2 separate regions of the Homo sapiens genome follow, and region 1 is linked to region 2. The links come from fine-mapping of genetic effects on gene expression. A gene starts in region 2. The other region holds a variant in brackets. All regions are shown on one strand. Distances are from middle to middle. Region 1 overlaps TCF20 (transcription factor 20). Region 2 holds the start of SMIM45 (small integral membrane protein 45).

The links. PIP is the estimated chance that this variant, and not a neighbour inherited with it, causes the effect. A credible set is the group of variants that fine-mapping cannot tell apart.
Region 1: its variant is the best candidate, but not a certain one, in a credible set for the expression of SMIM45 in prefrontal cortex (ROSMAP, PIP 0.85).

The regions. Positions count from the first base shown.
Region 1 is chr22:42,245,028-42,250,400 of GRCh38, forward strand. All of the region lies in intron 1 of TCF20 (transcription factor 20), which reads right to left. Among named protein-coding and RNA genes, the nearest start is that of TCF20, 23 kb to the right of the region's middle. The variant C/CA (reference allele first, on the strand shown) is at 2,412.
Region 2 is chr22:41,949,393-41,954,765 of GRCh38, forward strand. It overlaps SMIM45 (small integral membrane protein 45), which reads left to right and starts at 2,758. Exons shown (of 2, transcript NM_001395940.1): 1 at 2,758-3,029. RefSeq lists an enhancer at 1,587-2,214 and a silencer at 1,683-1,742.

The sequences.
Region 1 (5,373 bases), 300 kb after region 2:
AGCCGTGATCATGCCACTGCACTCCAGCCTGGGCAACAGAGCCGGATCCTGTCTCAGAAGAGAAAAAGAAAAAGAAAAAAAATCTCTAAAAAGGTGTAACTGAGAAGAACCTAGGACATGCAAGAGCAAGTAATTCATTACATAGTCTTCCCCTTTAGTTATCTCCCTTACTCCTTTTTTTCTCTTTGTAGCTGGGACTACAGGCATGCACCACTATGCCCGGCTATTTTTAATTTTGTAGAGACGAGGTCTCACTATGCTGCCCAGGCTGGTCTCCAACACCTGGGTTCAAGTGATCCTCCCACCTAGCATCCCATTGTAGGCGTCAACTACTGTGTCCAGCCTCCTTTACTCCTGTCTCATTCCCATGGCTACTCATCTCGGCCCTGCAAAAACATGAAACGTGGAAGAACAAGATGCTATCTGGGAGGTTTCTAACACTAAATTAAATATTGTTTCTTTGAACACTGACCTACTTCTCCCTTAAGAACTGAGTCCTAGTACTAAAAACTAACCTTTCACCATCATCTTCCTAAAATATTGTGATACCTTCTGCAATGCCCTTTTAAGGGGGTCAAGACAATTCATGTATTCACCCTAAGACAGCTTCCTCCAGCGCGATGTCAACCTTTCTGCCCACCTGCTCAGGACCTCAATTTTGCTAAGATCACTAGCTCTTACTAAGCTTTGGTAGAATTAACCAATGTTTTCTAGCGCCTTTCCCTCTCTATGGCCAATTTTATTTTTAAATTTTATTTATGTATTTTTTGGAGAGAAGGTCTCACTACGTTGCCCAGACTGGTCTCCAACTCCTCGCCTCAAGCAATCCTCCCACCTCAGCCCCTGAATAGATGGAATTACAGGCATGAGCCACCACAGCCAGCTCTATGGTCAAATTTTTACAACGTATTATCAATGATCTAGTTGTCTGTTTCCCACACAATACTGTTGAACACCCTGAGGACAAGTACTAGGACTCATCCCCAAACTCTGAAAAATGGTGCTTCTCAGTCGTTTCCCCATTTGGTTTCTTTTCTTCTACTCTAAAATACTAGACCCAATTTGCTTAATTCTTTTTCTTTTTTCTTTTTTTTCTGAGATGGAGTCTCACTCTGTCACCCAGGCTGGAGTGCACTGGTGTGATCTTGGCTCACTGCAACCTCCACCTACCAGGTTCAAGTGATTCTCTTACCTCAGCCTCCGTGTAGCTGGCGTTACAGGCGCATGCCACCACGCCCAGCTAACTTTCGTATTTTTGGTAGAGACAGGGTTTCGCCATGTTGGCCAGGCTGGTCTTAAACTCTTTACCTCACCTCAAGTGACCCATCCGCCTCGGCCTCCCAAAGTGCTGGGATACAGGCATGAGTCACCAGGCCTGGCCTCAATATACTTAATTCTTTACCTACATTGTTTCTCCTGGCTTCAAAAAGCTTCCTGACCACCAAAACTAATCCTTGGAAAAGGACAAGTCTTCCCTACACCAAAACTAAATACCATTGTTTGCCTTTTTCTCGTACGTGTTTTTCTCTACCTCTAAAATGATTGCTTGTTCATGTGTTCAATGCACCGTAGAGGATACGGCAAGTGCCAATACCATAATCTTGCCCTCAGGGAGGACTGGGGAAGGAGGGCAAGAACACATTTAGAAAGGTATAATAGGCTGGGCACGGTGGCTCACGCCTGTAATCCCAGCATTTTGGGAGGCTGAGGCAGGCAGATCACGAGGTCAGGAGTTTGAGACCAGCCTGGCCAACATGGTGAAACGCCATCTCTACCAAAAATACAAAAATTAGCCAGGCGTGGTGGCGGGTGCCTGTAATCCCAGCTACTTGGGAGGCTGATGCAGGAGAACTGCTTGAACCTGGGAAGCAGGGGTTGCAGTGAGCCGAGATTGCGCCACTGCACTCCAGCCTGGGGGACAGAGCAAGACTCTGTCTCAAAAAATTAAAAAAAAAAAAAAAAGGAAAAAAGAAAGGTATAATAAAAAGCAAAAAGCAAAGATTAAAGGTGCACCAGAAAATTACAAACGTCATGAAGGAAACATCCAGTTAAGGGAATGTTAGATTTCATGGAGAAAAGTAACATTTGAGAAAGGCCTTGAAATATAACTATCTCAAAAGATGGAGAACAGGCTGCACGCGGTGGCTCATACCTGTGATCCCAGCACTTTGGGAGGCCGAGGCAGGTGGATCACCTGAGGTCAGGAGTTAGAGACCAGCCTGGTCAACATGGTGAAATCCCATCTCTACTAAAAATATAAGAATTTGCTTGGCGTGGTGGCAGGCGCCTGTAATCCCAGCTACTCAGGAGGCTGAGGCAGGAGAATGGCATGAACCCGGGAGGCGGAGCTTGCAGTGAGCCGAGATGGTGCCACTGCACTCCAGCCTGGGTGATAGAGCGAGACTCCATCT[C/CA]AAAAAAAAAAAAAAAAAAGATAAGATGGAGAACAGAAAAGAGGACACGGACCCAGACCTGGAAATAAAGGCACCTCTGGGGACACCGAGCTGCAGCAGAGGATACAACTGGGGAAACCAGGAGATGTGGTTAGAGAGGCAGGGCAGGGTCCTACCATGGAACCCTGAAGACCAAGGCAAGGTGTCTAAATTTAACTCAGTACACAAATGAAAAGGATACGACAAGAGCTACCTTTCAGAAGATTTTCTGGCAGTAGTTGGGAAGACACTAGACCAGGGACTGGGGAAGAAAGGTTACTATTCACGAAGCTACAAGAGCTCAGGCAGGTCCAGCACCATGCTCATTTAAACCACTACCAATCTCTACTTCCACAAGCCTTGACCTGTCTCCTACTTGACTGGTTCCTCCGCATCTCTTCAAGACACCTCTCTTCAATTTCCTCACTTAAAATCACTAACTAGAAAGAAAAAATTAATAGTCTGTTCTACAGAAGTGACTTAAAAAGTGAATATTGTAGACTGATACAACCTTCTGGTTCATAGCCTTTACAACAAATATGTTGGCTCCTACTGTGTGTCAGGCACTACTCTAGGAAACATGGATGCAGACAGGGATGGAGTAGGCAAAGTTTCCATCCCATGGTGCTTACATTTTGTGAAGGAAACAGATACAAGACAAGACTGTCAGATAATTGCTGTGAAGGGAGAACAGGGCTGAGGGAGAGAGCACGTACTCATGTGGGCGCTGCCTGGGCTCAGGTGGGCAGGGAAAGCCTGTCAGTGTGGGGAGAAAGCAGCAGCCACATGGTGTACATTTTTACAAAGTATACATTTTACACTAAAAGGGAGAAACAGGTTTTGAAGCCACATAGAGTTGCATGCCAGCCCTGGCTCTATCACTTGGTGGCTGAGGAACCTCTTCCAAATGAATGAATCTCTCTTCAGTCTGTTTCTTTATCCCCGTTTTACAGATAAAATACTGACTTTATTGGGTTATTCTGAGAGAATTAAATAATGAATATAAAACGTGCACTGTGCCTGGTACTGGGTAAGGGATCTGTAAATATTAACTACTGATTTACTACATCAGTGATTAAATATACATAGAAATTATTTTGCTGCTATATCTAAACACTAGATTTAGCAAAAACTGTCTGCAATCAGTACCAATCATAATCCCAAATGCCATAATCCTGAATGTTAAAATCCCAAAAGACTAAAGTCTAAAAATCCCTAATGTTTAAAACCACAACCCCAAAAGATTAAAATCCCAAATGATGAAATCCCAAAAGCCGAATTTTGGGGCAGGGAATTTGCATAGTTTTGGTTGTACACAATAGTTACACCATGCTAGGTGGAACTATGACCTTGCTATTGTCATTATCTGGAAATTAAGTATGGTTTAAGGAGATGCCTATGGGTACCAAGTTGCCGAGGATAGATTTGTGGACTTAATTTTAGCTATCAACTTGACAGGAACACCTAGAAACCTGGTAAAGCACTGTGTTGTGTGTGTGTCTGTGAGGATGTTTTCAGAGATTAGTGTGCGAGTCTGAGTAGGCAAGGAGAGCCCTCTATGTTGGTGGGTATCATCCAATCAGCCAGGAGCCCAGGGAGTACACAGAAGGTGAATTGCTGAGAGCTAGAACAGACTTTTCTTCTGCTGCCTTGGACATCAGAACTCCAGGCTTGCCAGCCTTTGGACTCCAGGACTTAACCAGTGGCCCCCTGAATTCTGAGGCTTTTTGACCTTGGACCGAGAGATAACACCATTAGCTTCCCTGGTTCTGAGGCCTTTGGATTTGGACTGAGGTATGCTACTGGCATCCCAGGGTCTCAAGCCTGCAGATGATCTGTCATGGGACTTCTCAGCCACCATTAATCATATGAGCCAATTCCCCTAATAAATTCCCTCATATCTATACACATATCCTATTGGTTCTGTCTCCCTAGGGAACCCTGACTAATGCAGATTTGGTGTTGGGGAAGCTGAGTATCAGTTCTTCTTACTTTATTCTTTACAGCACAATTGAAGAGATCTGTGAAACTCTTCCCTCGCAAAAAGGCTCTGATAAGTGTACACGGCTACTTAATGGCGAAAGATAAAAGTTTAAAAGCTAATTATCACTGGTGCTGCAAAAGCAGAAATTGCAACGGCCAGGCAATAATCAGGCTTTCAAATAGACAGTATATACTTACAAAATTTGTGGATCACAACCACTTTGCAAATAAAACTGGAGCAAGTGCTTTGAAGATCGCAGAAGTGAAAATACAGGCAAAAAATACAAGAAATCTCCCCTGCCAAATTATTCAATGGTGTATTATTTCTGCTCCTTCACACATAGTGCCAATTTGCTATGCTATATATTTTATCTTCACATCATTTCTAATACTGGAGATATAAATTGTGTAGAGACTTTTGGAGAGTTCTAATTAATTCTATGCATTTTTTTTTTGCAAACTGAACTCCACAGAAGTGCATTATCACAACACTGACTTCATGTGTAAGCTCTGGCTGTGTTCATCAAAACGTAGAAGCCAGGTGTGGTGGAGCACCTGTAGTCAGTCCCGGCTACTAGGGAGGCTGAGGTAGGAGGATCACTTGAGGCCAGGAGTTTGAGGCTGAAGTGCACTATGATCATGCCTGTGAATAGTCACTGCACTCCAGCATGGGCAACATAGCTAGAAGACTATGGTCTCTTTAAAAAAAGTTGAAACTGGCCAGGCACGGTGGCTCACATCTGTAATCCCAGCACTTGTGAGGCCAAGGCGGGCAGATCACCCAAGGTCAGGAGTTCGAGGCCAGCCTGGCCAATACGGTGAAATCCTGTCTCTACAAAAATTAATAATACAAAAATTAGCCAGGCGTGGTGGCGGGGCGCCTGTAATCCCAGCTACTTGGAAGGCTGAGGCAGGAAAATCGCCTGAACCCAGGAGACAAAGGTTGCAGTGAGCCGAGACC
Region 2 (5,373 bases):
AAGAGGCCTCAGGCAGAAGGCAGTGCAAGTGGAAAGCCCCTGAGTGGGAAGCACTCCTGGCACTTCCGAGGCGTAGCAAGGAGGCCAGTGGCTGTGGCAGATGGAGTAAGAAGAACAGGGGAGGAGGTGAGGCCACGGAGGTGATTGAGCTCCCAGAGACTGAGGCCCTTAGAGAGTGGTGGGCTGGGAAAAGACTTTGGACTCTGGTGGGGACTTTCCAGGAGGGGCCGGGCTGAGACCCATTGGGTCAGCATGTGCTGAGTGCCTGCCCTGGGGACCCTGGTCCCAGAGGGGCCAAACTGCTTCAGGGAGTTACCACTTGTAACAAGAGACAAGGCACTGCAGTTGGGGAGGCCATCGGGGAGCAGCCAGGAGCAGCAGGAACCCAGGGGAAGCTGCTCTGTGTCCCTGGGGAGCCTGCACTCCACTTCACCGGGGCGGTGATCATTGGCTGAACAGAAAGTAGTTGTGTTTAAGATCCATACATGATGAAGGGTAGGGATGGGGAGGAGGCCAGATAGAGGCCTGGAGGTTCTTACATCCTGAACACCCAAGCTGGCAGGGTCATCAGAGTCCTCTGGGCCAGCATTTTTCAAATCGGCTTCTGTGGAGCCCTGGGGAGATGACTTGGGGTCCTGTGAGAGACGGGGGATTCCGAGTGGGTGGGGTCCAGAACCCCCACCCCCACCCAACCATTGAACCGAAGCAACCTCCACTTTATCTCTGTTATGTATTGAGCTTCCCATAAGCTTTTGTATGAATAAGGAATCAGTGGCTAAAACAATGCCGACAGGCCATGGATCACATACTTTACAGATTTATTGAGGCATAAGGGACACGTATAATCAACTACACTTATTTCAAGGGTACAATTTGATAAGTTTGACATATGTATATACTTAAGAAGCCACCATCACCATTAAGAGCCTGAACATACCTTCACCCCAAAAAGTTTACTCCTGCCCCTTTGTGATTCTTCCCCCAACTCCTCTGCTCTCCCACCCCAAAATGTTAAAAAGCACTTTGGCCAGGTGGTGGCTCACGCCTGTAATCCCAGTACTTTGGGAGGCTGAGGCAGGAGGATAGCTTGAGGCCAGAAGTTCAAGACCGGCTTGGGCAATATGGCAAAATCTTGTCTCTACAAAAAGTACAAAAATCAGCTGGGCATAGTGGCATGCATTTGTGGTCCAAGCTACTCGGGAGGCTGAGGTGGGAGGATCACCTGAGCCCAGGAGGCAGAGGTTGCAGTGAGCCATGATCACACCACTGTGCTCCAGCCTGAGTGAAAGAGCAAGACCTTGTCTTAAAAAACAAAGCAAAAGGCCAGGCGCAGTGGCTCACGCCTGTAATCCCAGCACTTTGGGAGGCCGAGGTGGGCAGATCATGAGGTCAGTAGATCGAGACCATCCTGGCCAATATCGTAAACCCGCCTCTACTAAAATACAAAAAATTAGCCGGGCATGGTGGTGCCCACCTGTAGTCCCAGCTCCTCGGAAGGCTGAGGCAGGGGAATCGCTTGAACCCGGGAGGTAGAGGTTGCAGTGAGCCGAGATTGCGCCACTGCACTCCAGCCTGGCGAACACAGCGAGACTCCGTCTCAAAAAAAACAAACCCTCTGTGAACTCACAGTCACCCCCCAGTCCCACATATGCTGGAAAGGACCTGTCATACCTGAAGAGCCCCTAGATGGCGCAGAGGTGTCTGTGGTGGGGGACCTAGGTCCTGAAGCCACCTCACCCAGAGGCTTTCCCCCTGCCCATCCCCAGGTTTCTGGGAACGGATTCCCTAGGGAGGTGGTTCCTGGAAGCCTTTTCCCAGCCACGCCCCGTGGGCCCTAGGGGGCTGCTCTCTCCCTCCTGAGAATAGCCCTCAACACGTGGCAGATACCTTGTCTATGGCATAGGGGGAGGGGGAGGATCCATGCTTGGGAAGGTGGACCCCACCCCCAACGTCAGCTCTTGGCTTTGAATTCCAGCTCAGTCACTGAGAAGCTGAGGGCTCTGGGAGAAGGAGAAGGCCAGCAGCATCACCTCTCTGCCTCATCCCAAAATGGGGTCTCAACACCAATCCAGCTGGGAGGACTGCAGGAAGTGATGTTGGGGCCAGCTGGAAGATGGGAGTGCTCAATGCCTGTGCTGGCTGTACACCAGCCAGGGGTGCTGTGGGGTAGATGAGGCAGAATGGGGAGGGGGAGCCATTTGCAAGGGTCCTGAAAGCCAGGCTAGGGCTCTGACCCTGGCATTGCTACTTTCTTGCTGTGTGACCATGAATAAGAATTAATTGAGTTAATATAATCAAAGCGTTGAAAACAGTGTCTGGTGCATAGGAAATGTTACATTGAGCCAATGTGTCTGAACTCTCAGACTCAGTCTTGGTTTTTCCTTGTATAACATATGACCCCCTTGAGCTCTACTGGTCACTGATTCTCTGTCCCCACCCGCTTGCCATTTACCCCAGCATCTCCCTGCTCCCCAAATGGCAGACCATCAAACCTTAGAGTTATCAGCCACGGTCCTCTCCTCTCTAGGCCCACCAGGCTTGGGGTCCTGCAGCCTGCTGGGTGATTCCCCCTCCCCGCACTCCCCCAATCCTGCCGCTCTGTCATCTGCTGTACCACGTGCACAGTACCAGGGATCCAGAAGAGAAGGCTGGTTGCCAGGGCAACGGAAGATAAAGCCCTTGCTCTGCCAGGCTGCTGATTGGCTGAGACAGGTCCCACCTCCTGCCATCCTGAGAGTGGGGGCTAGGGGGAAGGGTCTCTGATGGGCAGGGAGAGATACCAGGGTGCTGAGCCAGTCCAGGACTGCCCCCTCCTGGCCCACTCAGAGCCCCTGGGTGTGAGAAGCTCGTCTCCCGTGGGTTGCATTGGCTCTGCCCTATCTCTGCCTCCAGCACCCAGGGCGGCCGCAGATGGCAGTGTCTCTGGGGACAGCAGCTGCGAATGAGTCCACGGGCCAATGCTGAGCTGCTCAGGCTGAGGCGGTGTGCTCAGCACAGAGCCCCCGGAACTGGCATCTGCAGGGCGTGAGGTGGGTCTTTGGGCACACGGAGGGCACCGAGTGGTGCCAATGGCTTGGGAGGTAGGGAGAGGGGCTCTGCAAACTCACACTGTCTCAGGCAGCACATTGGCTGAAATGAGGCTGGAAAATTCCATATAGATCATCTGGTAACCCCATCCCCACCCTGTCACCGTGCACAGGGGACCGTGAGGCCCAGAGAGGGTGAAGAAGGGGCCAAGATAACACAGGAGGCCAGTGAGTGTGTTGCTTTTCCACCTAGGTCAGTTCCCTGAGAAATCAGGAAGAGACCACGGGGTCCTCAGTCAGCCTCAGAATGCCTGGGATTTTGTGCACAGGGCTGGAGAGGTTGGGGGACCTTGATCTCTATTCCACATCCCCCAGCATTGCAGCTGAAATGGCTTCTGTTCTGCCCCAGCCCTCCATTCGCATGTTTAAGCTGGAAGGAAACTGGGGGCCTGGCTGGGCCTGGATAGGGGGCATGAGTCACCTTGGACACAGTTAAGTCACACAGGGAGCAGCCTCCCTGCCTGAGGTGCTCCTTCCCTACCTTCACCAACCCTGGCAGCACCAGACAATCCTGCACTCTCTCCAGCTCCCCAGAAAGGCAGCTGGTTAAAAGGTGCTGGGTCCTACACGCTCCCCTGCCCTGGCTGCACTAGTCACTTTGGATAATCAGTGCACTCTTCATTTTATTCCTTCACAAATAGGGCACTTTAATACAATGTCGGTGCCTCAGAACAGCCAGTGAGGACCTTTGGGGTAGGAGAGGGGCTCCGGATGGATGCAGGACCAGGAAACAGCATCTTTCCCTCCCCTGGGGCCACAGCTTCCCTCACAGGCCCACCTGGGAGTAGAGAGACAAGAGGAGCTGGAGTTTGGAGACGGAGGTCAGAAGAGTGAGGGCTTCTCTCCGACCTACCTGGAGTTCTTTCCATCCATCCCCCTGCTTTCCTCCCCAGAAGCAAGGTGGGCATCTGCTCATTTCATCCTGCTCAGGTGCCTTTCCCTCCCCTGGAGGACGCAAGCCTCAGGGCATCGCTGGGGTTTGGCGTCTAGCTCTGCCACTTTCCAGTTGGGTAAGCCAAGGCAAGTTAGTGAGCCTGTCTGGGCCTCAGTTTCTTCATCTGTAAAATGTGGATAGTGACACTTGCCCCATAGGCCTGTTGTGAAGTTTGTGGAGGAAGTCAAAACAGTGCTCTACCTGCCGGGCAGGCAGAGGTGGGCTCCTCACGTCACCCCTTTCTTATAACTAGGGAAGGTTGGGGGTGGGTTCAATAGGCCCTGCATCATCCTGTCCCTGGAGGAGATGATCTGTGATCTGTGATCTGTTTTTTTTTTTTTTTTTTTTTTTTTTTTGAGATGGAGTCTCGCTCTGTTGCCCAGGCTGGAGTGCAGTGGCGCCGTCTCGGCTCACTGCAAGCTCTGCCTCCGGGGTTCACGCCATTCTCCTGCCTCAGCCTCCCAAGTAGCTGGGACTACAGGCACCTGCCACCACGCCTGGCTAATTTTTTGTATTTTTAATAGAGACGGGGTTTCACCGTGTTAGCCAGGATGGTCTTGATCTCCTGATCAAGTCTCAAAAAAAAAAAAAAATAGAGAATGGTAACAAGTACCCAGGTGATAGAGCTTTTGTGTCTGCTGAATGAGTTAATTTATGTAAAATATTCAGAACCAGTGCCTGGCACATAACAAGTGCTACATAGTAAGTTTGTTCTTATTCTCTGAGCCTCAGTTTCCTTATCTGTAAAATGGGGATAGGAATAGCACCCACGTCCTAAGGGTACTTTGAATTTTTTTTTTTTTTTTTTTTTTGAGATGGAGTCTTGCTCTGTCACCCAGGCTGGAGTGCAGTGGCACCATCTCGGCTCACTGCAAACTCCGCCTCCCAGGCTCAAGCGATTTTCCTGCCTCAGCCTGTTGAGTAGCTGGGATTACAGGTGCCTGCCACCACCCCTGGCTAATTTTTGTACTTTTAGAAGAGACGGGGTTTCTCCATGTTGGCCAGGCTGGTCTTGAACTCCTGGCCTCAAGTGATCCACTGCCTTGGCCTCCCAAAATGCTGGAATTACAGGCGTGACCCACCACAGCCAGACAGTGATCTGGCTTTTGAAGTATGAGTAGGAATTTGCCAAGTGAACAAGAATGCATATGCAAAATGAAAGCATATGCAAAGATGAGGACTGCATAATGTGCAGGCGCATGTAGGTGACGGACAGGCAGTTCCATGTGACCGCACATAGTGTGCCATGTGAGGAGGGGGAGGTTGGCAGGGAGCAGATGGGCACCTTTGGGCCATTCTAAAGAGTCTGGGTGGGCCGAGCACGGTGGCTCATGCCTGTAATCCCAGCACTTT